Linked DNA regions of Homo sapiens: all the other regions are reported to be linked to region 1. The links are microRNA targets in miRTarBase. Many come from high-throughput screens and were not tested one by one. Region 1 holds a microRNA gene; each other region holds the end of a gene's coding sequence.

What was found. The annotated mature microRNA hsa-miR-452-3p reads CUCAUCUGCAAAGAAGUAAGUG and lies in region 1 at 1,416-1,437, opposite strand. An mRNA with a match to its seed (bases 2 to 7 or 8) in the 3' UTR can be bound and repressed. Matches are read on the target gene's strand: a 7mer-m8 pairs with bases 2 to 8, a 7mer-A1 pairs with bases 2 to 7 and ends in A, and an 8mer does both.
Region 2: miRTarBase lists PIWIL2 as a target of hsa-miR-452-3p. Seed matches in the 3' UTR shown: 8mer at 6,530-6,537.
Region 3: the mRNA of PARP15 is a reported target of hsa-miR-452-3p. Seed matches in the 3' UTR shown: 8mer at 2,021-2,028 and 7mer-m8 at 4,545-4,551.
Region 4: the mRNA of HSBP1 is a reported target of hsa-miR-452-3p. Seed matches in the 3' UTR shown: 7mer-m8 at 2,899-2,905.

What each region holds. Positions count from the first base shown.
Region 1 is chrX:151,958,219-151,963,218 of GRCh38, forward strand. It overlaps MIR452 (microRNA 452), which reads right to left and starts at 1,494; the gene lies at 1,410-1,494. It overlaps GABRE (gamma-aminobutyric acid type A receptor subunit epsilon), which reads right to left. Exons shown (of 9, transcript NM_004961.4): 4 at 4,205-4,425; 5 at 3,065-3,147; 6 at 1,621-1,758. MIR224 (microRNA 224) reads right to left here and starts at 440; the gene lies at 360-440.
Region 2 is chr8:22,354,733-22,362,963 of GRCh38, reverse strand. It overlaps PIWIL2 (piwi like RNA-mediated gene silencing 2), which reads right to left. Exons shown (of 23, transcript NM_018068.5): 23 at 5,396-7,615. The coding sequence ends at 7,459. Among named protein-coding and RNA genes, the nearest start is that of SLC39A14, 8.4 kb to the left of the region's middle.
Region 3 is chr3:122,634,165-122,642,536 of GRCh38, forward strand. PARP15 (poly(ADP-ribose) polymerase family member 15) reads left to right here. Exons shown (of 12, transcript NM_001113523.3): 11 at 856-1,030; 12 at 1,647-4,883. The coding sequence ends at 1,936. Among named protein-coding and RNA genes, the nearest start is that of PARP14, 42 kb to the right of the region's middle. RefSeq lists an enhancer at 929-2,128.
Region 4 is chr16:83,808,717-83,816,616 of GRCh38, reverse strand. HSBP1 (heat shock factor binding protein 1) reads right to left here. Exons shown (of 4, transcript NM_001537.4): 2 at 7,871-7,900; 3 at 7,192-7,312; 4 at 1-5,196. The coding sequence ends at 7,194. Among named protein-coding and RNA genes, the nearest start is that of HSBP1, 4.7 kb to the right of the region's middle. RefSeq lists enhancers at 2,154-2,665, 2,666-3,177, 3,178-3,689.

The DNA.
Region 1 (5,000 bases):
AGTGAAGGGCAAGCCTCTCTCTGGAGGCAGGGCTGGACTCTCTTAGAAGCTCCTGAAGCAGAGATTCTCTGGATCAAGGTCCAAGATGGCCAGAGTAGCAGGCTACCACTGCATTCTGAACCCTTAATCGCCGAGCACGTAAGTATGCTCCAGATGGAGAGACCTGCCCCAGGGCCCAACTGGAAGAGTTTGAGACCAGTCCCAAAGATAACTCTGACATTGAAGGAACCACGTCTCCAGATCAACTAGTCTCCAGCAGAGGAGAAAGAAGACCTCTTTTCTCCTCAAGAATCCTCCTCACTCCCAAGGAGGTCTGGTGCTTACCTACTGTCATTGCTTTGATGATGATGCTGGCTCTGGGGCTTTGTAGTCACTAGGGCACCATTTTGAAACAATGCACAATCATCTACTAAACGGAACCACTAGTGACTTGAAAGCCCCTGGGCCTTATCTTCTCTGTCACTTTTGATGATGGGTCCCCACCTATCCGGGAAAAGCTGAGGTGCAGAAAACCAAGAGGCAGGCCCATGGTTAGCTGGCAGAAGAGCAAGGCTCCCAAGTCAAAGGTAGTAAAACCGCTTCCCCAGAGTCCCCAAGAAAAAGGGCAAGTATTTTTAAGGTAGCCCAGCCCTCTGCCCCTGCCTAATACTGTGCAAGCAAAGCTCTAGCCACATGAGCATGAGCTTTCCCTCATCCAGAGACTGACTCAATAAATGAAACAAAAGCAGATTTTCTGCCTAGTCACATGGTAGCAGAACAAGATGCCTCTCACGACAAATGGCTGGTTGGGTGACTGGCTCCATCCACATTCTGGAAACGATGAGGGCAGTGCCTTCACTGCCCTGAACTTGGTCAGGATGTGTGAAGAGTGTTTCCAGGGTTGCTCTGGGAGCTACCCTGGGGAGGTCCCTTGGCTCCTCATTCAGGTCACCTAGGAACATAAGTGAAGGTGCTCACATCTAATTGGGAGCTGAAGTGTAAGATACCCAGGACCTTCCCCTTTAGTCTTTGTCAGAGAAAAGGTCAGAAAACCAGTGGCCACTATGTCTATGTGGAATCCACCATGAAGCCTTTGATAAGAATCTGTGCTTTTCAGACTTGTTCCTTTAAGATAAATGTCAATGCAGCAGCCAGTGTAGCTGCTGTAACTTCCTCCAGACTTTCCCAGCCTTAAACTAGCTGACATTAGAACTCTAGCCTCCACCTCCCACTACAATGGACTTTGCTTCCCATTCAACCAGACTGGATTGGTTCTGGGTATGGAGAACTCACACGAGCTCCATTCCCCAAAGTCATCCAAAGAGGTCAGAGTTGTAACCTCGAAACTGAAGGGTCTGCATGAAAAAGCCAGCTGCACATTCCGACAGCAGCAGAACTTTATCTACTTACCTAACCTCTCAAGGAGCTTGGCAAAGCACTTACTTCTTTGCAGATGAGACTGAGACATAGTTACAAAGTCTCAGTTTCCTCTGCAAACAGTTGTAAGTGCTTAGCAATTATAAGACAGGAGCCATGTCTTACAATGTTTGCACGGGATGACTGCAAAGCATTTGTATGGATGGCCATCTCCAATCATCCCTACCACCTTCCTGGACTTCCGCCAAGCCCTGGCACGCTTACCAACTGGGGTTGTGATTATTTCAGTTTTGTTGCTCACTCCTGTAAAATCAAACTGGAAGAGCTTCCAGGAGTTCTTCTCATTGATTTCAAGCTTGAAATTTTCCCACTTGTAGATCATCTCATTCTCAGGATAGGAAACTGGAAAGGAATGTGAGAAAGAGGGTCTTATGAGACTTGGAAGCCCACCTGAGGTCTCCAATAGCATGAAGTCAGCCTGCACAATGCCTTGGAGTCCTGTCTCTGGCCTCACCAGCTGTGGGACCTTGCCTCTCTTACCTCATTGTTGAAGTCCATTCAATGAGTGCGTTTACTGAGCATTCCTCAGTATCAGGCCCTAGGCCAGAAATACAGAGATGAGCAAGGCATGAACCCTACCCTCAAGCAATCACATTTAATTTTATAAGACAGTGAGTATACTACTGTGATTTTTGGAGGAGCTCTGAAAAACCTATGTCCACAGAACAGCGGGGAAACAAAGTAGATAAAGGTCACTTGGGGACATACTCAGAAAAGACTTCATAAAGCAGGTGATATTCCCATTAAATCTTGAAACTCAAGTAAATATTCTCAATAAGAATGAGGTTGAAGGGGTTAAGGGGCAGTATAGAAAGGTGAAACACCTGGTGTATTGTGGAAAGGACAAAAGTTCAGGATGGCTAGCTCACAGAGGATGAGGTGCACAGGATTGGGTGGCAGGGTCCAGTTCATGAATGGCCTTGAGGTTCATTCTAAGGAATTTCAAATTGATCCATGAGAGTTAACGGCAGATTCGAGACTAAGAAGTGACCCAACCTAGGTGACCCTTCAGCTAGGTCACTCTGGTCCTTCTGTGAGGACAACATGTTGTCAAGGAGGCCAGTGTAGTAATCCAGGCAGAATTAAATTAATGCAGGTGGAAGTCAAAGCTGTACAGGGTGCAGAGAAATAGACAGCATCGATAGAGACTGGGAGGAAACACCAACAGGATGTGCTGATTGATTAGATGCAGGAGGTGAGGGAGAGGGAACATCAAAGTTCTTGATTTGCGCAACTGGGTGAGTGATGGTCCTCTTCAATGAGACAGATGGGAACCCAGAAGCAACACACTTGTTTTGGTGGTAGAGGTTTGGAGGAGACAATGAATTTCATTTTGGACATGTGCAGTTTCAAAGTGAAGATGTGGCAAAAGTCCAGGTGGAAGATAACAAAGGCCTAAACCAAGGTAGTGCCAGTGGAGATGGAGAGGAGCAGACATACTTGAGATACGCTTCAGAGGCACGTGGAAGGGATGAGCAACACAGTATTGTTGGCAGGAAAGGAAATGAGGGTGGAGGATGGAAGTCCTGCACAACCTTGGCAGCATTTTAGAAGAAAAGCAGAGGCAGAAAAATGTAAATGGCAAGGATGAGAAAAAGAAGGAGCCCAGCATGTTTCTGGGGCCCCAGAAACTTAAGAAGGTACTCACAGCTAGAGAAAGATAGAGGGCAAGAGTGAGAATCCATTGGAAATCTGAGCATGTGGAGTGAGCATCCGGCATCAATGGTCATCCTGGAAGGGAGAAAGGAGCCTCATCAGGCTGGCCCTAAGCACTTCCGTATCCACCCAGCTTTGGTCTAGGGACTACCACCAATGAATGGCCAGAGTCAATTTTTTTCTTTGTTTGTTTGAGACAGAGTCTCACTCTGTCACCCAGGCTGGAGGGCAGTGGCGTGATGTCAGCTCACTGCAGCCTCTTGCCTCCCAGGCTCAAGCAATTCTCATGCCCTAGCCTCCCGAGTAGCTGGAATTAGTGCCAGCACACCCTGCTAATTTTTGCATTTTTAGTGGAGACAGGGTTTTCCCATGATGGCCAGGCTGGTCTCGAACTCCTGACCTCAAGTGATCTGCCTGCCTCAGCCTCACAAAGTGCTGGGATCACAGGCGTGAGCCACCGTGCCTGGACCTCGCTAGAATTTAAGACAAAAAGCTCAAAGGAGAGATAACAAGAGAGAAAACAAAACAAAACAAAACAAAACAAAACAAAACAAAACAAACAAACAGCTTAGAAGTATCTGGTTACTCTGGGCTCCATCATTAGAGAAACGTATGGAGCAACTTCGATCGGCTTTTGTTTTCTCGCCCAGCCTAGTTTCCAGGACCTGCCAACATCCTCCCTGCTATCCCCCACACACAACCTTCCCCTGCTGGGAATTCAAGTATCCAACTTGATCTTAGGTACCTTTGCCACTACCGTGCTGCTGCTCTGCCTGAACAATTCCACCACTGTGGACGTATCTTTGTATCGAGTGCCCACGTAGGATGGAATTGTCTAGATAATGCAGTCATACTGGCACATCCTAGTTGAGGGAGCTCTGGACTCGGAGCCAAGTAACTGAGTACCAGTTCCAGCTCTGCCACAAACTTGGTGTGTGGCTTTAAGCAATATCTTTCTATTTTGAGGCCTCTATATCTGTTACATAAGGGGGCTGAGCTCATGGTCTAGGAAAGCTGGACAGGCCCTTAGAGGTATCATTCAGGATGAGATCTCTGCCCATGGATCTTTAGCTAAAATTATCAGAAGGGGAGAGAGAATTCCAGGAAGTGAGACTCCAGAGGCTTGACATACCTAATTGTGTACAACACCTTGCCATCCTTGTAGATGCGGACCATCTGGTTGGGCATGGTGATCTCATGCTCGTGGGTCCTCTTAGAATTCCTAAAAAAGGTGTCCGGGATCCATAGCTGGCTCACCACATTGCCATTCAGAACAAGAGACTCAAAGGTGTCGTTGTAACAGAGGCGTTCGTCGTACCAGGTCTGGGAGAAGATGATGTCAATGGTGTATTCCTGGTGGGAAGGACAGAAAAGCACATACTTGGGGATGAACAGAAAAAGGACATTCACATGCAAACATATTGTTTGCCACTCCCTAACCTAGAATCCTAAAGGCAATGTGGTGGAATGCATTGAGCACTAGACCAGGAAGCAGGAGTCAGATGAGGTCCCTTCTCTCTGCTCAAAGACTCTTCCAATGTCAGAACTAGAAGGGAACTCAGAGGTTACCAAGCCTAATGATCCCAAATGAGAAGTCAGTCATGCCCTGCTTGATTACCGTGAGCAAGGGGAGCTAGGTCCTCACATCATGCAGCAGTTAACACAATTCTCACACAACTCAGGACAATAGAAAAGTTTGCCTTAAACAAAGCTCCCTACTACTTTCTCTTAGAATCCCCACTGTGCTCTCAGGTAGCACATAGAGCAAGTCTAGTTTCGGTTCCAGAGGAGAGATCTCCAGAAATGATACGTCATTGAATCTGTCTTTTTCCCACATTTCTGAAGTCAGGGTGCACCTTACAATTGACACATATCTTTAATGGGGCATTTCTTATTCTTTCTTGACAGTGGCTTAAATTGGTTACGAT
Region 2 (8,231 bases), not on the chromosome of region 1:
CTTTGTAAGCAATCTCTTCAACTTCTGGTTGGTTTTGTTTAATTGACAAATAGTAATTGTACATATTTATGGGGTACAATGTGATGTCTGGATACCTGTACACATTGTGAAATGATCAGATCTGGGTAATTAGCATATCTATCATCTCAAATATATATATATGTATATAATATATACATATTCTTTTTTGCCTTGTCTTTGTCAGGCTATTCCTTTTTTTAAAAAAATCATTCCTTTGTAGTGGGAACATTTAAAATTCTTTTCACTATTTTAAAATATACAGTATTAACTATAGTCACCATACTGTGCAACGGAACACTAGAACTTATTCTTCCTAACTGTAACTTTATACCCATTGACCAATGTCTCCCCTTTTCCCTGTCAACCTCCCTCTACCCCCACCGTGTATCTGGCAACTCCCTTTCTATTCTCTACTTCTATGTTTGACTTTCTTAGATTCTACATACAAGTGAGATCATATGGTATTTGTCTCTCTATGCCTGGCTTATTTCACTTAACATAATGTTCTCTAAGTTCATTCAGGTTGTCATGAGTGACAGAATGTCCTGTTTTTGATTTAAAGCTGAATAGTATCCATTGTGTAAATGTACCACATTTTAAAAATCCATTCATCCGTTGATGGGCACTCAGGTTGTTTCCATATCTTGGCTATTGTGAACAGTGCTGCAATGAACATGTGAGTGCACATATCTCTTTGGCATACTGATTTCTTTCTTTTTGGAGACAGAGACTCGCTCTGTCACCCAGGCTGAAGTGCAGTGACACCATCTCGGCTCATTGCAACCTCTGCCTCCAGGGTTCAAGCGATTCTCATGCCTCAGCCACCCGAATAGCTGGGATTACAGGCGTGCAACACCGCGCCCAGCTAATTTTTGTATTTTTAGTAGAGACAGGTTTTCACCAGGTTGGCCAAGCTGGTTTGGAACTCCTGGCCTCCAGTGATCCACCCTTCTTGGCCTCCCAAAGTGCTGGGATTGCAGGTGTGAACCACCATGCCCCGCCCAGCATACTGATTTCAATTCCTTTGGGTATATACCCAGTAGTGGAATTGCTGGATCATATCTGGCTGTTTTGTTTTCACGATTCTGTCTTTCATGTTCTATAGTTTCACTATAGTTTATCTAGCAATGGATATGCTTTTCTTTTATTTTTTTGAGATGGAGTTTTGCTCTTGTTGCCTGGGCTGGAGTGCAATGGTGCAATCTTGGCTCACCATAACCTCCGCCTCCCGGGTACAAGCAATTCTCCTGCCTCAGCCTCCCGAGTAGCTGGGATTACAGGCATGCGCCACCACGCCTGGCTAATTTTGTATTTTTAGTAGAGACGGGGTTTCTCCATGTTGGTCAGGCTGGTCTCGAACTCCTGACCTCAGGTGATCTGCCCACCACGGCCTCCCAAAGTGCTGGAATTACAGGCGTGAGCCACTGCGCCCGGCCAGATATATTTTCTTTATCCCCAGTACGTTTCTTCAGTTAGACGATTCTTTTTCTTTCTTTTTTTTTTTTGAGATAAGGTCTCATTCTGTCACCCAGGCTGGAGTGCGGTGGTGCGATCACAGCTCACTGCATCCCCAACCTCCTGGCCTCAAGTGATCGTCCCACCTCAGCCTCCTGAATACCTGGGATACATGCATGTGCCACCATGCCTGGCTAATTTTTTATTTCTTTTGTAGAGACAGGGTTTCACCATGTTGCCCATGCTGGTCTAAAACTCCTGAGCTCAAGTGATCCACCCAACTTGGCCTCCCAAAGTGCTGGGATTACAGGTATAAGCCACCACACTGGCACGTATCTTTCATTCTGGAAAATTCTCAGTCTTTGCATCTTCCATATTGTGTGCCACCCATTCCTTCTATTTTAACCTGCAGGAACTTCTCTCAGACACATGTTGGACCTGCTCATTCTCTCTGGTCTCTTCTCTTCCATAGGTCCTATTTATACCTCTTTGTGCTGCAATCTAATGGACCGCATTGGTTTCCACAAGGCTCTGGAACTTTCACCAGTCTGGGTCAATCTTTATGTTAATTTTTCAGCTTGTGGCCCTTCAGCATGCTGGTAACAAAAATTCAGGCTACACACGTCTATCTGTATGTGGCCCAGGCTTGGGGATTTTTCATGGATGTCTTTTTCGCCCTATCCATTTCCCTGGTCAAACACCACATTTCCCTGCGGCCGCCCCAGCATGATTGGCAGGGGTTCTCTAGTCCCCTTCCAGCTTCCAGCTCTCTTCATGCAGGAGACTCAGCTGTAGCAATCCTGCACTTCGCAGGGGCTCAGGCTGTGTATGTCCTGGCCCTACCTGGAATGAAACCAGAATCCTGGGAGCTGTGCTAGTACCACTCAGCTTCCCTTTCCTTCTTGTAACAAATATTAACCTTCTCCCCTCCCCCACTCCCCTCTCCTTTCTTCCCTGGTAAGTTTGTTATAGCTGATAAACCTACACTGACATATTACCCAGAGTCCATAGTTTACATCAGGGTTCACTCTTAGTGTACATTCCGTGGGATCAGACAGATTCATAATGACATGTATTCACCATTACAGCATCACAGTGAATAGCTCCGCTGCCCTAAAAATCCTTTGTTTCTGCCCATTCATCTCTCGTCTCTCTCTCCACAACTGCTGATCCTTTTTTCTCCGAGACGGAGTTTTTCTCTTGTCGCCCAGGCTGGAGTGCAATGGCGTGATCTCAGCTCACTACAACCTCTGCCTCCTGCCTCAAGCGATTCTCCTGCCTCAGCTTCCCGAGTAGCTGGGATTACAGGTGCCCACCACCACACCCAGCTAATTTTTGTACTTTTAATAGAGACGGGGTTTTACCATGTTGGCCAGGCTGGTCTCGAACTCCTGACCTCATGATCCACCCACCTCGGCCTCCCAAAGTGCTGGGACTGCAGGTGTGAGCCACTGCGCCCGACCAAACTGCTGATCCTTTCACTATCTCCACGGTTTTGCCTTTTCCGGAATGTTATACGTTGGAGTCATATATAGCCTTTCCAGATTGGCTTTTTCCAATTTAGTAATATACATTAAAGTTCCTCTGTGTCTTTCCATGACTTGATAGCTCATTTCCTTTTAGTGCTGAATAATATTCCACTGTCCAGGTGCAGTTTGTCCATTCACCTACTGAAGCACATCTTGGATGCTTCCAAGTTTTGGAAACGATGAATACAGCTGCTATGAATGTCCGTGTGCAGGCTTTTGTGTGGACATGAGTTTTCATCCCCTTTGGGTAAACACCAAGGAGTATGACTGCTGCTCCATATGATAAGATTATGTATGTGGTTTTGTAATCCTGTTTAATTTTATTAAGAACTCTCTTCTCAAGTGGCTGTACCAGTTCCTGCAGCTCTGCAACCTCACCAGCATATGGCGTGGTTAAGTGTTGTGGATTTTGGCTATTCTACCAGGTATGGAATGGGTGCCTTGTTTTAATTTGTGGTTCCCTAAGGAGATATAATGTGGAGCATCTTTTCATACGTTTATTTACCATCTGTGCATCTTTGGCGATGTCTGTACAGGTCTATTGCCGATTTTTAAAAAAACTGACTAGTTTCTTTATTAAGTTTAAAGAGTTCTTTGTATATTTTGGATAACAATCCTTGATCAGATGTGTATTCTGCAAATATTTTCTTTCAGTCTGTGGCTTTTCTTCTCAAGCTCTTGATGTTCCTCATTTTTTGAAAAAAAGAAAACTCTAGGCAGGAAAAGTTACTAAGTAACTCAGCTAGCCATAGAGCCAGAAAGAAAAAACAGGGTCTTCTCTAATAATCCCAAACCTCTAGAGAAATTAATTTCAGGCCCAAATTTTAAGGTTTTAAAATATATAGTCATTTCTAAAATTCCTTTTTCACATCATTCAACAAAATGCTGCCCAAGTAAAAAGGACCCTGTCACACCGTACAGCAGTCCCTCCTTTCCATGGTTTCATTTTCTGAGGTTTCAGTTGCCCTTGGTCAGCCAAAGTCCAAAACTATTAAATGGAAAATTCCAGAAATTCATGTTATAAATTGCAAACTGTTCTGAGTAGTGTGATGAAACTTCACGTTGTCCCACTCCATCCCCCGTGAACATGAATCATGTCTGTCCAGAGTATCCACACCGGTGATGCTACACATTAGTCACTTAATAGACATCCTGAGTTTCAGATTCAAATAACATAGTACCGTATAGGATTCAGTACTATCTGAGGTTTCAGGCAACTGCTGGGGGTATTCAAATGTATTCCCCATGGATAAGAGACTACTGCACAGAAATGAGGTTCTTTCTAGAATGAGTTCAGGAAGCACAGAGTTTCTAAATAAATAGGGAAACTGTAGTATTCTAAAGAAATGCAGTGCTTAAGTGAGCAGCTAGGTGCTTTGGGAAGGTACTTAAAATTTTATTTTTAATTTTTTGGATACATAGTAGTGGTACATATTTATAGTATACATGTGATATTCTGATACAAGCATATGATGTGTAAGAATCAAATCAGGGTAACTGGGCTATCACTTCAAACATTTATCTTTTTTTTTTTTTTGAGACAGAATCTTGCTCTGTCACCCAGGCTGGAGTGAGTTGGCACAATCTCGGCTCACTGCAACCTCTGCCTCCTGGGTTCAAGCAATCCTCCTGCTTTAGTCTCCTGAGTAGCTGGGACTATAGGCACACACCACCAAGCCTGGCCGATTTTTATATTTTGTAGAGTCAAGGTCTTCCCATGTTGCCCAGCTGGTCTTGAAGTCCTGAGCTCAAATGATCCACCTACCTCAGCCTCCCAAAGTGCTGGGATTATAGGTGTGAGCCACGGCACCCGGCTCATTTATCATTTCTTTGTGTTAGGAACATTCCAATTCCACTCCTCTATTTTGAAATGTACAATAAATTTTTGTTAACTATAGTTGCTCTACTGTGCCACTGAACTACTAGATCTTATTCCTTCTAATGGGATTTTTGTACCCAGGGAAGGTATTTCAATGGTGACAGACACCCCGTGAGGTATATGTAAAAAAGGGCAAGCGTTAAAATAGTGGAGCGGTGGGGAGGCTGCCCTTGCAAGTGGACACACTCTGGCTCTCACTTAGGGTAAAAGAAATTGTCTGATGGGAGAAAGAGAGCTAAAAACCACACACAGACACACACACACACACACACACACACACACACACACACACACAAAGTGCCTCATCTGTCTGAGAAGTGAGGTGGCTACTGTTTTTTTCAATAAGTCTTCTTACCCAGCTGATGATGAAATTACCTGGCTACTAACACTGGAGTTGCAACTTACAAGCAGAGTAATGAGTGTTTCTAGGAAGTGCTGCAGCTCTCTGAAGAAAAAGAGTTACATCAATATAATAATAAATAAACAACATTATTTCAAACACAACTACAAATTTATACAAAGTTGTTTTTATTTCCCACCCCATGACCCAATCATTTGGCATTAAAACCGAAAAACGAGGCAAGAAAACCAAGAATAAAAAGTGAAGAAATTTTTGTATTATAATGTATTCAACCATTTGTTCTGATTATCTAAGAGAAAAAAAGTATTAGGAAATCCAACTTCAACAGAAAAATTCAAAACGCTTCCAAGGAAAATCAGAAAACTGATCTGCTTAGCCAGAGACCAGTGGTTCACAGTGTTTGATTCTGTGGTTTTTAAATTCCAGGTCCTTGTCTCACCCTAATGTCCCACACTCCAAATGAAACCAGCAGTGCACCAACAATACCCATCCCTCCTCAACCTCGGCTGGGCACCGCAACAAACCAAAAACATTCTTGGTTTTCTTGTTTTAAGGAAATCTTTTTTCTTTTTTTCTATATGCTAATCTTCTCTATATCATTTTAATTTTAGTATATGTGCTGCTGAAGTGAGCACATTTTACGGAGTTTTAAGCTAAAGTTTCTTTTCTCACACATTGTCATATAAAAGGGGTATTTCTGCTTTGTCCCCTCCCTGCCATCATACCAAAAAATAAATAAGTACATAAATACAAATTAGAAAAGCTTAAATAAGACCGGTTTTTAAAACCCAATAAAGCAAGATGAGACAGAACTAGGCCCGAAGGGACTGGGAGAAGATTCTAAAATGGAGAGGGGGGAAAAAAAACCAGAAAAAAACGGGTTTCCAAAAACACTGAAACCCATGGTATGTGATAACTTTCTAACCATCTGGACTTTGGTAGGAGTGTCACGTTTTCCAAAGCTGACTTCTGGAAATCTTAACCTGGATTCAGAAAAATTCCAGCAAAGTGAGCCAACAGCCAGGAAGCGGTTATTTTGCAAGAGAAAGGGGGTAATTCCATTTACAAACATATATAAATAGAAATAAAGGCCACACACCTGGGAGAAAAGTTCACTAAAAACTCCCACCCCAACTTGAACTTTCCTAGCTGCTAGATTTTTTCTGCCTGTTAAAAAACTAAAAATTACTGAAGATCAGGCACAAAGAGCAAAAGAGCATGTGTATATTTGGGGAAGAAATCGTCATGGTATGCTGGAAAGTTACTGAAATCCACGGAAAAGGCTTCATCTGCACTCTTTCAAGAGGCCAAGGGAAGCCATTTTCGAATCCAACTCAAGTCACAGTCGTCATCAATTCAATCCCCAGAGAGGATTTAGTCAGCAAGGGCCGACCTATGCCACAAACTGATTTTACTACACGCCTTGCACACCTGCCAGTAATAGCAATATCTACTTGAAAACTTTGCTTCACAGACCTTCCACTGCCTTTCCCAGTTGCCTGAGTAATTCTCTTCAGGCAACTTGCAATGACTTAATTATCATCTCTGGCTCCAGAAATGGGAACCACTTAGTTGGCACAGCTTAGAAGTATAATGGCTGCTTCTGCTGGTTTCTGCAGCTCATGTTGGCTTTTTTTTTTTTTTTTTGAGACAGAGTCTTGCTTTGTCAACAGGCTGGAGTGCAGTGGCGTGATCTCGGCTCACTGCAACCTCCACCTCCCGGGTTCAAGCGATTCTCCTGCCTTAGCCTCCTGAGTAGCTGGGACTACAGGCGTGCACCGCCACACCCGGCTAATTTTTTTGTATTTTAGTAGAGACGGGGTTTCACCATGTTGGCCAGGATGGTCTTGATCTCCTGACCTCATGATCCACCCGCCTCGGCCTCCCAAAGTGCTTGGATTACAGGTGTGAACCACCGCACCCGGTCTGGAGGTCTTAATGGTCCCCCAGAGTCACCCGCTCCACCTGCAGAGTGGCAGTACCACCGTAACTTGCTCTACACAGGCAACAAGGCCATTTTCAGCTGTTACTCAGAAACTTGCTTCTTGGTGATATTAGGTTTAAAAGACAAGAAAGAAATCTTATTCTACAGGGTTGGAGAAAGGGAAAATTATAACACAAAAGCCCACTTCAGTCTCTGTTGATTCTGCAAGAGTCACAGCTGAGTTCTGAGGCCGCCTTTCTTCTCACCAGCCCATCTCCAAGCTGTGCAGTCACAGGAAGAACAGGTTCTCGCACAGCTGGATGGCTGGTTCATGATGCAAGATGTGTCCTGACAGGAAAGCTAGCTTGTGGGCATACTTGCAAGGAGCTGGAACTCTGATGGTGCCAGGCCAATTCCAGTACATGTGGCACAGTTTGAAAGTCAGCCTGTAGGCCAAGAAGAAAATATAATTCTCATCATCCCCCACCTTCAATTTGTGGCATGCAATACAATACAATAGTCACGGGGATATGACACAGAGCACACCTTCCTGAAAACTGGGGAGCAGAGGAATACATGATGCAGCTTTTTAGAATCACTATTTTTAAATGGACTTGTTTTTATTCCCACTATTCATAAGTCAGACGACATGGGTAAATCTTCTCAATTGAGGCATTTCCCTGTTTTTTTTTTGTTGTTGTTGTTTTTTGTTTTGTTTTTTTTTTTTGACAGAGTCTTGCTCTGTTGCCCAGGCTGGAGTGCAATGGCACAATCTCTGCTCACTGCAACCTCCTCCTCCTGGATTCAAGTGATTCTCCCAACTCAGCCTCCCGAGTAGCTGGGATTATAGGCATGCGCCACCACACCCAGCTAATTTTTCTATTTTTAGTAGAGACAGGGTTTTGCCATGTTGGTCAGGCTGGTCTCGAACTCCTGGCCTCAGGTGATCCGCCTGCCTCAGCCTCCCAAAGTGCTGGGATTATAGGCGTGAGCCACCGCACCCAGCCTCCTGTTTTTATACGAAAACAACACAAAGAGAAAATATTTCTTGTTTACAAGAAA
Region 3 (8,372 bases), not on the chromosome of region 1:
ACATCATCCTCTCAGATTTCCTCCTCCTTCCCCAGACACAGGTTATCTGGAGCCCCTTCCTATATTTTCATAGCCCCTTGTGTGTTCTCCTGACCATCCCTTATCACTCTGAGCAGTAGTGATTAGTTTTCTTGTCTTGCCCACCACCCCCATGCCATTAGACTGAATGTTTCATGAGGACAGAGACCCAACACAAACTTGATTCATAGAGATGTTCAGTAGGTGATGACTGAATGGATGTTAACTCCATTTCCTAGGAGGAAGGAGAACCAGTAGAGGGTGATATTTTGAAAAGAAGTGAAAGAAGAGCAGAGTTTTAAGAAGGGGATGGCTCGTGGTTTGAAATGCTATTCAGAGGTCTAGAAAAAAATAGTCATAAGATTAGGCAATTATGAGGTGATCTGTGACCATAATTGGAGCAATAACAGAAAGAATTGTTATGAGGAGAAGCCACATGGAATGAGTTGGAAGATGAGGAGTTAAGGACATGGCTATTGAATGACTACAAATTTTTGAGTAGGTGTTTGAATGTCAGTGAATCTCCAGGAATTCCAGGGAATATATGTTGGTAATCATTTAGATATAAACCGCAAATTATGTTATTTAAAATATATACCAACAAGCACTATTACAAAGCATAGACACTAATAGATACTTTTAGCCCATCTTTCTCTAAAGGCAGAAAGCTGCCTACTCTCTGAATTTGCTGTCTATTTGTATTTTCTTCTCCTTTTCCTTCACCAAATTCTCTTCCTCTTCCTTCTTTTTCATATTGCTTATTTTAAATCCACAACAAGTACAATATACTGAGCCCCAAGGTCCTTTCTGAAATATTTTGTCTTTTGTTACCTGCAGATTGAGAGGATACAGAATGCATTTCTCTGGCAGAGCTACCAGGTAAAGAAAAGGCAAATGGATATCAAGAATGACCATAAGAATAATGAGAGACTCCTCTTCCATGGGACAGATGCAGACTCAGTGCCATATGTCAATCAGCACGGCTTTAATAGAAGTTGTGCTGGGAAAAATGGTAAGGAAGCAAGTAATTTGGCTGATCAGAATAAGGCAAACAATAGTCTCAGACTTTTCATACCCAAGCAGTGTGGAACCATGGTGGGCAGCTGTATTATCACTGTCAGAATAGAGCTCACTGTGTTTCACTGTAAAGGAGACTGGCAACCTTCTAAGGGAAGATGGAGTGAATTTTAGAAATGATGAAAAATAACTTTAACGTGCAGTTTTTTTTTTAATGGGCTTTTTTTTTTAGACGGTCTCATTCTGTCACCCAAACTGGAGTGCAGTGGCAAGATCATGGCTCACTGCAGCCTTGATCTCTTGAGCTCAAATGATGCCCCCACCTCAGTCCCCTGAGTAGCTGGGATTACAGGCATGCACCACTATGCCTGGCTAATAATTTTGTTTTATTTTTGTAGAGAAGGGGTCTCATAATGCTAGCCAGGCTGGTCTCGAACTCCTGGCCTTAAGCAATCCTCTTGCCTCAGCCTCCCAAAGTGTTGGGATTACAGGCATGAGCCAACACACCTGGCTAAAACTGCATTTAGAAAACAATTTTGTCAGATTGGGCATGGTTCTACACATTGTGTAATTTTATATTCTTAGGAAGGTTTTTGTCTTTCTCTTTCCAGCTGTATCCTATGGAAAAGGAACCTATTTTGCTGTGGATGCCAGTTATTCTGCCAAGGACACCTACTCCAAGCCAGACAGCAATGGGAGAAAGCACATGTACGTTGTGCGAGTACTTACTGGAGTCTTCACAAAGGGACGTGCAGGATTAGTCACCCCTCCACCCAAGAATCCTCACAATCCCACAGATCTCTTTGACTCAGTGACAAACAATACACGATCTCCAAAGCTATTTGTGGTATTCTTTGATAATCAGGCTTACCCAGAATATCTCATAACTTTCACGGCTTAAAAATATTTTTATCATCAAAGAGATGATTTAAGTCATCTGTAAGAACAACATGCAATCTTTGTCTTTGCTTCTGGCCTGTGTAAGCAGATGAAAGTTTCCCTTTTAGGTGCCAAAATGCTGAAAATTACCTTTTTAAAGTGCTCTATTGCTGCGATTTGTAGCATACCTTTTTTTCTCAGCAAATTGATGGGTGGAAGCTGAGAAATGTATGGTAAATGTCACAGAGCTACAACCATTCACAGACACCAAATCTCTAGGAGAATAAAAAGCACATTATTCTTTTTCTATCAGAAAAAAACAAGATGCATCACCTTAAAACCAAGATGACATTGTTCTTCTTGGAACATGTTAAGACATCGAATGGTGGCGGGTTAAACTGTACTGCTTAAGTGGAGCGGCTACCGTTATGCATCTATCACAGTTGGGGATTTTGCCTTATTAAGGAAAACTTGTCAATAGTTCAGCTGAAATGACTGAATCACAGAATATTAACTCTGTTATGGAACAAATCATAACAGATTTTACCTGTTTACATTTCAGGTAAAAATGTATCGCATTGTTATCTAATATTAAAAAATTACCCCCAATTTTAGTGACTTAATCCCACACAGTCTTTATGGGTCAGGAATTCAGGCATGGCTTACCTGGATCATTCTGCTAGGGTCTCTCTGAAGTTACAGACAAGATGTCAGGGGATGTGGTCGTTTGAAGGCTTGTCTGGGCTGGAGGTCTATTTCCAAGGTGAATCACTCACATACCTGGCACGTTTCTGTCAGGTATTGGCAGTCCTCAGTTCCTCTCCTCTCAGGCCTCTCCACAGGCTGCTTGAGTGTCCTCATGACACAACAGTTGGCTTACTCCAGAGTGAGCAACTCAAGAGAGAGCAAGGCAGAAGCTACCAAATCTTTATGTTTGAAGTCATGCACCATCTTTTCCACGAGTATCCTGTTGATTATTTTGATCAGCTTGTTCAGTCTGGGAGGGAATTGCACAAGGGCATGAATACTCCACTGGCAAGGATCATTGGGGGCCATCTTGGAAGCTGTGTGAATGAGCAAATGAATGCACAGATAGAATATTAGCAGTGACAATGATGCTAGAGGTCACCTACCCCACTGTCCTCTTGTCCTTCTCCCCCAACCCTCCCCTGCTCCCAGGCAAGAAGCCCTCTAGCCTCTGCTTGATCACTTTCAGCACTCAACATCTTCAGGGAACCTATTCCGCCGTGGGACAGTGTTAATTAGTGGAAAACTCTTTTTCAAAAGTTGAAATCAGTTCCTCTGTGTCTATTACCTGCTGATCACTGTCCAGACTTCTGGAGGACACAGAGCAAGTTTTATTCCTCTTACTGATGGTAGCCTTTCAGATCCATCCCTTCCCTCCAGTATATTAGAGTTACGTAAATTCTTAAAATGCTTAGCAGCTCATTTATCCTGAAGCATCACTTTTGAAGAGTTACAGACATTTAAGAAGTATTTACATTATCATAAATAAATTACATGCGCATTTAAAGAGAACAGAAAAGTATAAAGAAAAATAACTCACCAAACTCACTCATAATTCCAGCACTAAGGGAAAACCACTGCCAATTTCTCATGTCTCCCTTCCAGTTTCTTCTCTGTCCAAATTCAACAAAGTCAAAATCACATTTTGTTCTGTCACAAATCATATAATATTATTTCTACCATTTTTCTTTTTTTAATCTTTTTTTATTATACTTTAAGTTTTAGGGTACATGTGCACAATGTGCAGTTTAGTTACATATGTAAACATGTGCCATGTTGGTGTGCTGCACCCAGTAACTCATCATTTAGCATTAGGTATATCTCCAAATGCTATCCCTCTCCCCTCTCCCCACCCCACAACAGGCCCCGGTGTGTGATGTTCCCCTTCCTGTGTCCATGTGTTCTCATTGTTCAATTCCCACCTGTGAGTGAGAACATGTGGTGTTTGGTTTTTTGTCCTTGCGATAGTTTGCTGAGAATGATGGTTTCCAGCTTCATCCATGTCCCTACAAAGGACATGAACTCATCATTTTTTATGGCTGCATAGTATTCCATGGTGTATATGTGCCACATTTTCTTAATCCAGTCTATCATTGTTGGACATTTGGGTTGGTTCCAAGTCTTTGCTATTGTGAATAGTGCCGCAATAAACATACGTGTGCATGTGTCTTTACAGCAGCATGATTTATAATCCTTTGGGTATATACCCAGTAATGGGATTGCTGGGTCAAATGGTATTTCTAGTTCTAGATCCCCGAGGAATCGCCACACTGACTTCCACAATGGTTGAACTAGTTTACAGTCCCACCAACAGTGTAAAAGTGTTCCTATTTCTCCACATCCTCTCCAGCACCTGTTGCTTCCTAACTTTTTAATGATTGCCATTCTAACGGGTGTGGGATGGTATCTCATTGTTGTTTTGATTTGCATTTCTCTGATGGCCAGTGATGATGAGCATTTTTTCATGTGTTTTTTGGCTGCATAAATGTCTTCTTTTGAGAAGTGTCCGTTCATATCCTTTGCCCACTTTTTGATGGGGTTCTTTGTTTTTTTCTTGTATATTTGTTTGAGTTCATTGTAGATTCTGGATATTAGCCCTTTGTCAGATGAGTAGATTGCAAAAATTTTCTCCCATTCTGTAGGTTGCCTGTTCACTCTGATGGTAGTTTCTTTTGTTGTACAGAAGCTCTTTAGTTTAATTAGATCCCATATTTCTACCATTTTTCATTAAACATTACAAGTTGTTCTCTTGTGTTCTTATTTTTTCTGTAAACATAATTTTAATGGCAGAGATATTCTGCTTTATATCTTTCCCTATTTTATGTATATAGAATTATAAAGTTTTTAAAAATGTAATCATCATTATTTATAGTTTAATAATCAGTTTCATCTTGCAGTGTATCATTTTCCTCGTCATTAAATATTTTACGTATCATTTTTAATGGTTGCACCGTATTTCATTGCCTGTTTCTACCTACATGTCATGTCAAAATAAGGTACCTATATTTTTGATAAATATGAGGTTAGAATATGAGATGCAAAGATCCTAGTCTACCTTCAACAAGACAGTTAAAATGCTCTATTGCTGCAATTTGTAGCACGCCTGAAGGAAATATAGTCCCAGAGAACAAAGTATGGTTAAATAATGCAGTTCCTGCCTGGGCCTTGGTTCTCAATACCAGTGCAGAATTCTAGTGAGCCATGTTAGAACAAGAAAGGACTCCTAGCCTGGGCAACATAGGGAGACCCCATCTCTACAAAAATAAAAAAATTAGCCCAGCATGGTGGCGCATGCCTGTGGTTCCAGCTGCCTGGGAGGCTGAGGTGGGAGGATTGCTTGGAACCAGGGGGTCAAGGATGCAGTGAGCTATGATCCTGCCACTGCATTCCAGCCTGGATCACAGAGCAAAACCCTATCTCAAAAAGAAAAGACCCTTTTACTTAGGTTAGGTGGACTCTTATTTACAATGTCTGCTGCTGACTTGTTGCCTCCTCCAATGTTGTTACTCAAGGATGTTGTTCCCCAGTTTATTTTGCTGTACCCTTACTTCAGGAGTAAGACACAGAAGCTTTGACTACAGTGGGCCGGGCGTGGTGGCTTATGCCTGTAATCCCAGCACTTTGGGAGGCCGAGGCGGGTGGATCACAAGGTCAGGAGTTTGAGACCATCCTGGCTAACACAGTGAAACCCCGTCTCTACTAAAAATAGAAAAAAAATTAGCTGGGCGTGGTGGCGGGCGCCTGTAGTCCCAGATACTCGGGAGGCTGAGGCAGGAGAATGGCGTGAACCTGGGAGGCAGAGCTTACAGTGAGCCACTGCACTCCAGCCTGGGCAACAGAGTGAGACTCTGTCTCAAAAAAAAAAAAAAAGAAGTTTTGAGTAAAGTATACCCATGTTATTAAAGTTGTTATTCTTTCTTGAGGAACAAACTATGAACCAATCAATAATTATAGTTATTTAGAAATTCTACCTTCCATCAGTCTGAAGCTAAATTGTATCTTTCCATCCTTTAAGTCCATCTCCTTCCCACTTGGCTTGATGTTTTCTCTCTATATGACTAGAATGGTCTCTACTTTTATCCTAAGAACTAACTGTTATCTAGCTTAGTATCAAAATTAGAAGTCTTGTCAAACTGTTAATTACTGAAGAAATCCATCTCTTTTCTCTGTATCTTCAGAGTTCAAGCAAATGGTACCTGATTAATCCAAGACCAGAGACCATGAGCTCTAATTCTGGACTGGCAGCCTTCTTTCACGGAAGGCTTCACGGTCTCAAATATCTTCTCTTATTGCTTTTCTTACCATTCTTCTCCTTCTTATTCCTTTTTTTGTTTCTTTTAATTCTTTCTCTCACTTGTGGAAAAAAAGGACACACACTCTGCTTGGATGAATCAGAGGAAATATTTTCATTTTTTTCTGCACCAATAGTAGATAGCCACTCAAATTCCACATAGTATATATGGTAATGTATTAATTGAACACAAGGTTTACAAATTCATTTACAGTGTGGCAGGTTATCACAGGGCTGGTGAGATCATTCATAGCTAGTATGATCAAATTCAATTTCTTTTGAGTACTTTACTAGAACAAATACAGTTTCTTTTAGTAAATAAGCTTTATAGTAAATATGCTTTACAAGATTAATTGATTAAATTATTACATATCCTAGCTTTGGTCTCACCACATTAGTAAACATAGGAAGGGAATCTTGCAACTAAATTCAAAGTATGAATAACTTAAAAGACCTTTGGCCCATTTCTCTTTGTTTATGTTATTTTTGTGGTCACTAGGATATAAATATTCTCTAATCTTCTTTTCTTTATTTCACTGAGAAGGGCATTTTCTACACAGTATTTAATTCCCTTAAGTCTCTTGTTCCTAAAATTATCACCCTATAACTAAGACCTATCAGAGGAGTGATTTTGGCTTCCACAAAATCCAACCACCTCTTCAATCTGAGCTTTTCTTTACACGTGCTTAATGTGTTCTTGTCTCTTCACACCTAGATGGCTCAACTCTCAACACCTTTTTCACATTCAATTTACTCAATTAGTACAATGCGAGATCAACCCTCCACCTAAACGGAAAAAAAAAATAATGAAAATGCTTCTCTTTAGGTCTTTGTAGTTTATGGTGTTAGATGGAGCTCTTTTTTTCATATTAATTCCACTAAAATTCCAATTAAAGTGCCTGAGATAAGGGAAGTACCAATACAAAAAGAACAACATAAAATTAACAAATCTGGGGCCAACAACAAAAACAAAATTTCAGTGTAAATTCAGGATAAAACAAGAACCCAGAAAGTAAAAGTAGGAGTATTAGAATCTAGAACAGATAATGATAAACATCATAGAGCAATAACAATTTTATAATGTTCTATTGTTTTTTGTTTTTTGTTTTTTTTTGTTTTGAGATGGAGTCTCACTCTATTGCCCAGGCTGGAGTGCAGTGGTGCCATCTTGGCTCACTGCAACCTCCACCTCCCGGGTTCTAGCGATTCTCCTGCCTCAGCCTCCCAAGTAGCTGGGATTGCAGGTGCTCACAACCACGCCCGGCTAATTTTTGTGTTTTTAGCAGAGTCGGAGTTTCACCATGGTGGCCAGGCTGATCTTGAACTCCTGACCTCAGGTGATCTGACTGCCTCAGCCTCCCAAAGTGCTGGGATTACAGGTGTGAGCCACCATACCTGGCCAAATCTTCTATTGTTAACAGAGGTTTGTTTGTTCTTTTTTTTTTTTTTTTTCTTTTTTTGAGACGAAGTCTCTGTTGCCCAGGCTGGAGTATAGTGGTGCAATCTCAGCTCGCTGCAACCTCTGTCTCCCAGGTTCAAGTGATTTTCGTGCCTCAGCCTTCTGAGTAGCTGGGACTAGCATGTGCCACTATGCCTGGCTAATTTTTATATTATTAGTAGAGATGGGGTTTTGCCATGTTGTCCAGGCTAGTCTCGAACTCCTGATCTCAGGTGATCTGCCCACCTTGGCCTCCCAAAGTGCTGGGATTACAGGCTTGAGCCACTGCCCCAGGCCTTGTTTTTTACTCTTGAGACAGGGTCTCACTTTGTCACCCATGCCAGAGTGCAGTGGTGCAATCATGGCTCACTGCAGCCTTGACTTCACAAGCTCAAGTGATCCTCCCATCTTAGCCTCAAGTGATCCTCCCATCTCAGCCTCCCAAGTAGCTGGGATCACAGGCACGTGCCACCACACTGGAATAATTTTTTTTTTTCAGTAGAGAAAATGTCTCCCTATGTTGCCCAGCGTGGTGTCAAACTCCTTGGCTCCAGTGATCCTTCTACTTGGCCTCTCAAAGTGCTGGGATTACAGACATGAGCCACCGCACCCAGCCAACAGAGCATTTTAATATATACAGTATCTCACTTCTCTCTGTAGCAGTCCTCTGAGGAAGGAGGCCCCTTTGATGGAGGACGCTGA
Region 4 (7,900 bases), not on the chromosome of region 1:
CAAGAACCACATGGCTCAACCTATCATGCGGGTCCTGTTTGCCAGGATCATTTTAGGCACAGGAGTGGGGTGGAAACACCTTCAAAGAAACATTTTCTTCACTCTTAGGAGACAAAAGGGAAGAAGAAAGGCATTCTCTGACCGGATGCACCCAGGTGGAACAAATCTGGGGTTGGGTCTTTTTATTTTTTATTTATTTTTTTGTTTTTTATTTTTTGAGATGGAGTCTCGCTCTGTTACCCAGGCTGGAGTGCAGTGGCACGATCTCGGCTCACTGCAACTTCCACCTCCTGAGTTCAAGCGATCCTCCTCCCTCAGCCTCCCGAGCAACTGGGATTACAAGCGCCCACCACCACGCCTGGCTAATTTTTGTATTTTTAGTAGAGACGGGGGTTTCGCCATGTTGGCCAGGCTGGTTTAGAACTCCTGACCTCAGGTGATCCACCCACCTCGGCCTCCCAAAGTGCTGGGATTACAGGCATGAGCCACTGCGCCCGGCCGGGTCTTGCTCTTAGTTTTACTGAGGTGCAGAATTTACTCGCCCCAGAGCTGCCCTCCCTTGGGACTTCTTGCCATGTGAAATAATACATCCCACCATTGTTAAAAGGGCTGATTTTTGCTATTGGTAGCTAAACGCTTCTAAGCTGCTGGATCCTGAATCCAGACTATTCTTAATTATTGGGAAGCAATACTGTTCTCTTTTGGAAGGTGGACATTTTGCAAGACCAACGTGACTAAATGGTCAAATTCTGTTTTCTACGGTAGAGACACAGAATTTGACCATTATTAGATCATTATTGCGAAGATTATTATTGTGAAGCAGGACAGTCAAGAGTGTTCTTATGAGGCAGGGCAGCATCTACACGATAGGTATGTAGTTCATGTATGTGGTGTCTACATATGCTTTGGTAAAATGAAGCTCTGTTGATGAGACAGCCACATATTACATTTCATCATTCTCAGGGATCCCACAGAGGCTGATGTTGTACAGCTTTCAGGATCACTCGAACCCTAGGCAGCGGTCTGAGGAGCTTCCAGCCACCTCTTAGTGAGAGCCTCAGGTGTGAGGACCAAGCGTTAGGATCCGCCCTTTTTTTTTTTTTTTGAGACAGGGTCTTGCTCTGTCACCCCGGCTGGAGTGGAGTCGTCCGATCACAGCTCACTGCAACCTCGACTTCCTGGGCTCAAATGATCCTCCCACCTCAGCCTCCTGAGTAGCTGGGAGCACAGATGTGTGCCACCACACTCTGGGCTAATTTTTCTACTTTTTTGTAGAGATGGAGTCTCAGTATATTGCCCAGGCTGGCCTTTTTTTCTTTTTTAAAATACTGTCATCCTGACTTGTTGAAACAAACCCTTTTCCTATTTCCATATTAATTTGTAGGGTTGATAAGTGCAATGTTCAATCACAATTCCTCTGGTTTTGTTTTTGGGCAGTGACTTGCATCTCCCCTCCCTCATTTTCATTCATTGAAAAGTTCTCAAGTGGCTGCAGCTAAAATCAGACACTTAAAATTAATGCAAGATTAAGATTCCAGGTGATGGCTTCTTCATGAGTCCATTTAAAAGTCTTCGTTGCAATAAAAAAAAAACACCACAAAACAAAAAACAGTGAAATCCAATAGGATGGTAAGCTAATAGGTCACGGAGTGGCGGGGGGGTGTCTTTTTATCCCCCGGGTTGGGCCTCAAGCAATAATTTTTGTGGGAGACAGGACAGGTATAGGCATGGAAAACCAATGTGAAAACCTGTGGTTCATATTCCCCGTGGTTGTGCTCTGGGCAAATGTTTGAGGAATGTCATTTGTTTCTGTTGTTGTTCTCAACTGATTTAGGAGAAAAAAGGCACTGATCCAGGAGCACACATTTTCTACCAGCTCTGAATAGTTTAAATTCCAAATAAAAACTCACATCCAGTGTGTTTATTACTTAATTTTAGGTCATGTTTAATTGAAAACACTCCATCAGCCTTTTGAAAGTAAATTTTGAGATCCAGCCAGTGGGGCTGATGATTTCCAGACAGCCTGGACAGCTGAGATTCGGAGCTCAGCTCACACGAAGAGGCAGACGATCAGCTGTGTTCGTGAGCAGTGCAGGTGTGCAGCTGTGAGACGGTCAGCTGTGCTCGTGAGCGGTGCAGGTGTGCAGCTGTGAGACGGTCAGCTGTGTTTGTGAGCGGTGCAGGTGTGCAGCTGTGAGGACATTCCAGGGTCATCATTACCAGCTGTGACCTTGTGCCCCTGACTCCCCGTCTTGGGTTCCTTTTCTTTAAATATGACTCATCAAATGAAAACCTCTCAGTGTTGTTGTGAGGATTAAGCCAAACAGTGCAAACAAAAGGCTTAGCACAGTACAGCGGTTTACAGTCAATGCTTTCAATGGCGCTAGCTGTGAACATTTGGTAACTGTAACCAGTTAACTTTCAGGGCTAGATATGACAACACATCCTGCAAATTCCTCCATTTTAATCTAATCAAAATATATAATGTGCAAAATACAAAATAAAAGAGGAACACAGTGTCTGCTTGGGAAGGCTTCCATTTACAAACAGCATGTTGAAAAAGTTCACTTTTGTTTGGAGGACTCTATGTTCCCATAGCAACAGTGCTCTAAGTGTGTGTGTGTGGGGCTTAAATTCCAAGGACTCACAAGGGCAAATTAACTCTTAGTTACGTGAAATATTGTGTTAGTCCTGATAGGGTTAAACAATGACTGTACTTGTAGTGAAACAAAGAAAAAATTGATATGAAAATAAGATTGAAATATTTTAAAATCCTGTGGCTCAAAGGAAAGCAGGATGAACTAGGGGCCAAATGAAGAAGCTGTGGGGCCTTGGGGTTTGAGACAGGGCACTTAATTAAATGTAACGCTGTTTTCCTTGGTGCGAGGGCCCCCATACTCATCTGTATTGTTCAGCCCTCAAGAGAATCTTCACTGGCTGGTAAACGAACAAGAATAGCTGGAGAAGGAATACTTCATATAGTATAAAAAAGACCCTTGGACAGGCATGGTGGCTCCAGCCTGTAATCCCAGCACTTTGGGAGGCTGAGACAGGACTGCTTGAGCCTAGGAGTTCTAGACCAGCCTGGGCAACACAGCAAGACCCAGGTGCGGTGGCACGAACCTGTAATATTAGCTACTTGGGAGGCTGAGGCAGGAGGACTGCCTGAGCCCAGGAGCTTCAGGCTCCAAGTGAGCTATGACTGTGCCACTGCACTCCAGCCTGGGCAACAGAGCGAGACCTCGAAAACTAGCAGGTGAGCAGGTTAAAGCTGAGTTCTCTGCTCTACTTTCAGAGTCTTTAATATGCTAATTTCTTCATGAGGTTCACAGAATGTCGTCTAAACCCAAGTGACCATAACCCCTTCCTTCCTGCAGCATCTCCAGGGGCAAGAGTTCTGGGAACACACCTGAGACAAGTCTCCTGCAATGCCAGTCTTGGCAAGCCCTCCTCCCGCTCCTCAGCTTCCCCTTCCAGCAGGCAACCTCCCCCAACACCCCCTCTCCTGCTTTGCCTTGGGCTACTTGTACTTAATCCGTCCAGAGGTTTTAGTTGATACTCTAATGTGATTTCTGCATTTCCATCTGAAAACCAAACAGATTTTTGACACAAAGGAAGCTTCATAGCAGGATTTCAGGCACCTTTATTCATGGCAGATATTTTTGGTCAGGGCAGCCTGCCTTTGAAATCGTTCCATTACTTGAGGAGGTCGACTCCTGCCTAAGTCACAACTCTCCTACAACCGCAACCGGCCATATCATTTCCATTTGCCACTTCCGAGGCTTGAGAACATCACCAGGGACGCAGGTTTCGGATGGTCTGGTCAATGCTGCAGTGTGTGTGGGGCATTCGGGGGCTCCAGCCTGCATCACAACCTACTGGCCTGATCAAAGGAGGTTCTGTAGTTGGGTAACCAGAGTGGTGAATTCATTTTATCACAGAAGGATCTCACTCCTTTATGTTCCCCATGTAATTTGTATACAGCACAAATTATTTCTTACTTTGATAGATTTGCAATATAAACACCAAGACTGGTGAGATGAGAAACTTAAAAAAATCATGTTTTTCAAATTTTCAAGTTTTTGTGTAAAAGCACTTTGTGGTGACAATCATATGGATCACCTTCCAGGTCATCAGTATTGGCCTCTAGGTTTAGCACTCCTGGCACTGCATTTTTGAGTGGCCAGAGATAAAGGTATTATCCCTGTCTTCTATAATCAATGATAACATTGACACTCTGCAAGAATTTAGATAAGAAACAGTTTAAGTAAAATAGTGTTTTTTAAAAACTTGAGTCTACTACAAGTCGTTGATCATATTCTAGCCAAGCAACTGGCATGGACTTAATATGGTCTCTTTTCCTTCTCTCTTTCTTTTCAAGTCACTAGCTCAAAGGAAAGACTGATTGAGTTTTAAAATCCTGCCAGATTTTTTATGGTAACCATTGTAGATGAACCACGTAGGTAGGGTCCTACTGAAGTATTAGAATCTCATGCAAAACTCTAACAAACGCCTCATTACAGAAGGCTATTCTGTTATTTTCTGTACTGTAAAAGTTCTGACACAAGACAGTGGCAGTGGTTACTTTTCATCGACTTTAGCATGTGATCTCAGGGACTCAGACATACGTCTAAGTTCTATTCTGAGTTTTGGCAACAGAGCAGTGACAGATATTTCTGAATGAACAATTTTTAGGTGTTTTCAGCCATTTGAAAAGTATTGCCAACACACTATTTGGTGTTAGCTCAACAGTCACGTTGTGCCAAGAATTAAAGAACTCTAAAGTCTACAAACATCTTACTTCACCAAGACTAACTATAATTGAAGGGTTTACTATTTGTTTAATAAAAAATCACACATCAACTTTTATCCAAACAGCAACTACTACAAAAGGAATGACAAGAAAAAAAATGACTTCACAGAAATACACTAAAAAATCTGACAATGTTATGCAAGAACCGCCAAAGTTTTAGTGTTTAATAATGAATAGCACAACTGACCAAGGTCCAAGATGTGAAGATACCATGTTCAAGAAACTGGGGGGAAATCACTCTACAAACTAACTATATACTAGGTGATAAGAATGCATACTTTATAATATAAAACCTGTCTACACATAGTAGTTAGCTGCAAAAAGCCATTCGATCTTCTCTTGGCTTGGAAAAATGCCAGATTCCAGTATAAATTATTAGCAACCTGTTGAAGAAGGAAAAATCATCAACATGTTTTTCATTATATGAGCACAAGTAAAAATGACATATAGACCTATCAACTACAAATCCCTTTCCACTCTCCTACTGAGTTAAACTTATTTTCTTCTGGCAATATTTTAGCAATAGATTTAACTGGAAATATCTTTAAAAGTTTCAGAGTCAGTTTCCTACTCCCACTCTTTTCTTTGAATGACCCCCATCACTAGCCAGTCTACCATCCTGAAATTCTTGTGGTAAGATAATCAGTCAGTTGATGGCAGTTTTGATTGCCACATAATATAAAAAGAGACCCACAGAAGCATCTGAGACTGGTAGGACATTTTTCCAAATTATCTCTGGATAAGAATAACGATGACATAACCCATAGAAAGCAGTTATGTGATTTACTCACACAGTGAATGAACCCCACCTACTGTGAAGATAAAAGCAAATTTTAGAGTCTGTCTTCAACATCCCAAATCTGTATTTCACAGTGACTTAAAATGTGGTCCACAGCAAGCCCAGAAAATAGGAAATTAGGCATGTTTTACTGTACATTCTGCTTAGTACTCTACGAATCTAAAAATACTCAGGAACCATTTTATTTTATTTTTTTGAGACAGAGTCTTGCTCTGTCTCCCAGGCTGGAGTGCAGTGGCATCATCACGACTCACTGCAAACTCTGCCTCCTGTCTCAGTCTGCCAAGTAGCTGGGATTACAGGCGTGCACCACCACACCCAGCTAATTTTTGTACAGACAGGGTTTCACCATGTTGGCCAGGTTGGTCTCGAGCTCCTCACATCAACTGATCTGCCCTCTGCCTGCCTTTGCCTCCCAAAGTGCTGGGATTACAGGCATGAGTCACCACGCACCAGTACCTTTTTTTTTTTTTTTTTTTTTTTGAGACAGAGTCTCACTCTGTCGCCCAGGCTGGAGTGCAGTGGCGTGACCTCGACTGCAACCTCCGCCTCCCTCAGCAACATTCATTTTTATAGAGAATTAAAATGTTATAAATGAAACAAGAGAAAAGTGAGTCTAAAACTTATTTTTCACACATACAGAGGAAAAGGATCACCATGCACTCTGCTGAGTGATTCTGTACATTTACCTATCTTGCTGTGTAGGTACTTTGAATTACTAGGCTTTCCTCTGACATCTGAAACTATTCAGAGGAAATTTAAATGAACTCCAGGGTAAAAGCTTAATGTGGCCACAATCTAGTTCACCTATGTCAAGTTACCAAGAAAGTCTCCAGAATTTAAGCCATTTAAGAAGGTGGTAATGTGGGTGACTTATCAGTTATTTCCATAAAAAAAAAAAAAAGCAATGGAAAATCTTCCAGTGACAGGCTTTATAGGCCAACAAAAAGACACCTTAATTATTAGCTGGAATGATAAAAACTCAGTGGTTATCTAATGTTAGCCAGTGGTCTTCACTAATAGTGACAGAAGTCTAATTAATAAAAACTGGGAAAATAAATTCGGTGTAAAGAATGAGTTTGGCATGAAAAATTTCAAAACATCAAGTCCACAGCAGGTAAACAATACAGTGATGCTTGCTGGGATCATGGCTGGGAACTGATCTACAGAATGTCTGACTACATACAAATTATACTTACAGGTTCTCTCTATTCTTTTAAGACAAAATAAAAAAAAAGACCGGGCACGGCGGCTCACACCTGTAATCCCAGCACTTTGAGAGGCTGAGGCGGGCAAATCACTCAAGGTCAGAATTCGAGACCAGCATGACCAACATGGAGAAACCCCGTCTCTACTAAAAATACAAAATTGGCTGGGTGTGGTGGCACAAGCCTGTAATCCCAGCTACTCGGGAGGCTGAGGCAGGACAATCGTTTGAACCCAGGAGGGCAAAGGTTGCAGGGAGCCGAGATCGTGCCATTGCACTCCAGCCTGGGCAACAAGAGCAAAACTCCGTGTCAAAAAAAAAAAAAAAAAAAAAAAGAAAAGAAAAGAAAAAAAAAATTGCCCCCTTCCTCACCTTCAACTCTTTTGCGTGGCAGGTATCTTGTTTTCACTTTCCAGTTCTTCCACCCCAGCCTGTGTCATGAGGTCCGCGATATTCTTTTCCAGATCATCAATGCGACTACTCATATCATCAAGTGCTGAAGTTAAAGACAACGCGTGCCAACATCTCATTGAGCCTTTTTCCTCCCGTCCCTGCAGACTACAGCCTTAAACACAACGACTTTAGGGAAACTGGTCTTCCAATTTTCTTTCGACACTGTTACACGCTGGTGGGTAAGAGTACAGGACTGTGGGGCATGGCTACCCCGCATCGGATTCCAGCCCTGACCCTTACTAGTGATGGAACCCCTAAACCTCAATTTATTCATTTGCTAAAGATGATAACACTACAACCCACTCATAAGGTCATGCTGAGCATCAAAAGACACACACAAAAGCGCTTAGTTCACAGTGCATGGTCCACCACACCAGCTATTAGGATTGGTAGACGTATGCTCCTTGAGCCAGGAGTCTAACTCAGCTTTGCCCCTAGCTCTCGGCGCAGTCCTTCTCAGAAACACAGTACAATCCAAGCTCAAATTCTACAAGTGAATGGCTGAAGCTAGCCTGAAAACTACTCATTTATCCCCACCACTGCCCGGCAAATAGGCTCCAAAGGCCCACAGGAGGCCGACTGCAGATAAAAAGGATATTTCTCCCAATGATCTGGTCAGACATGGTCT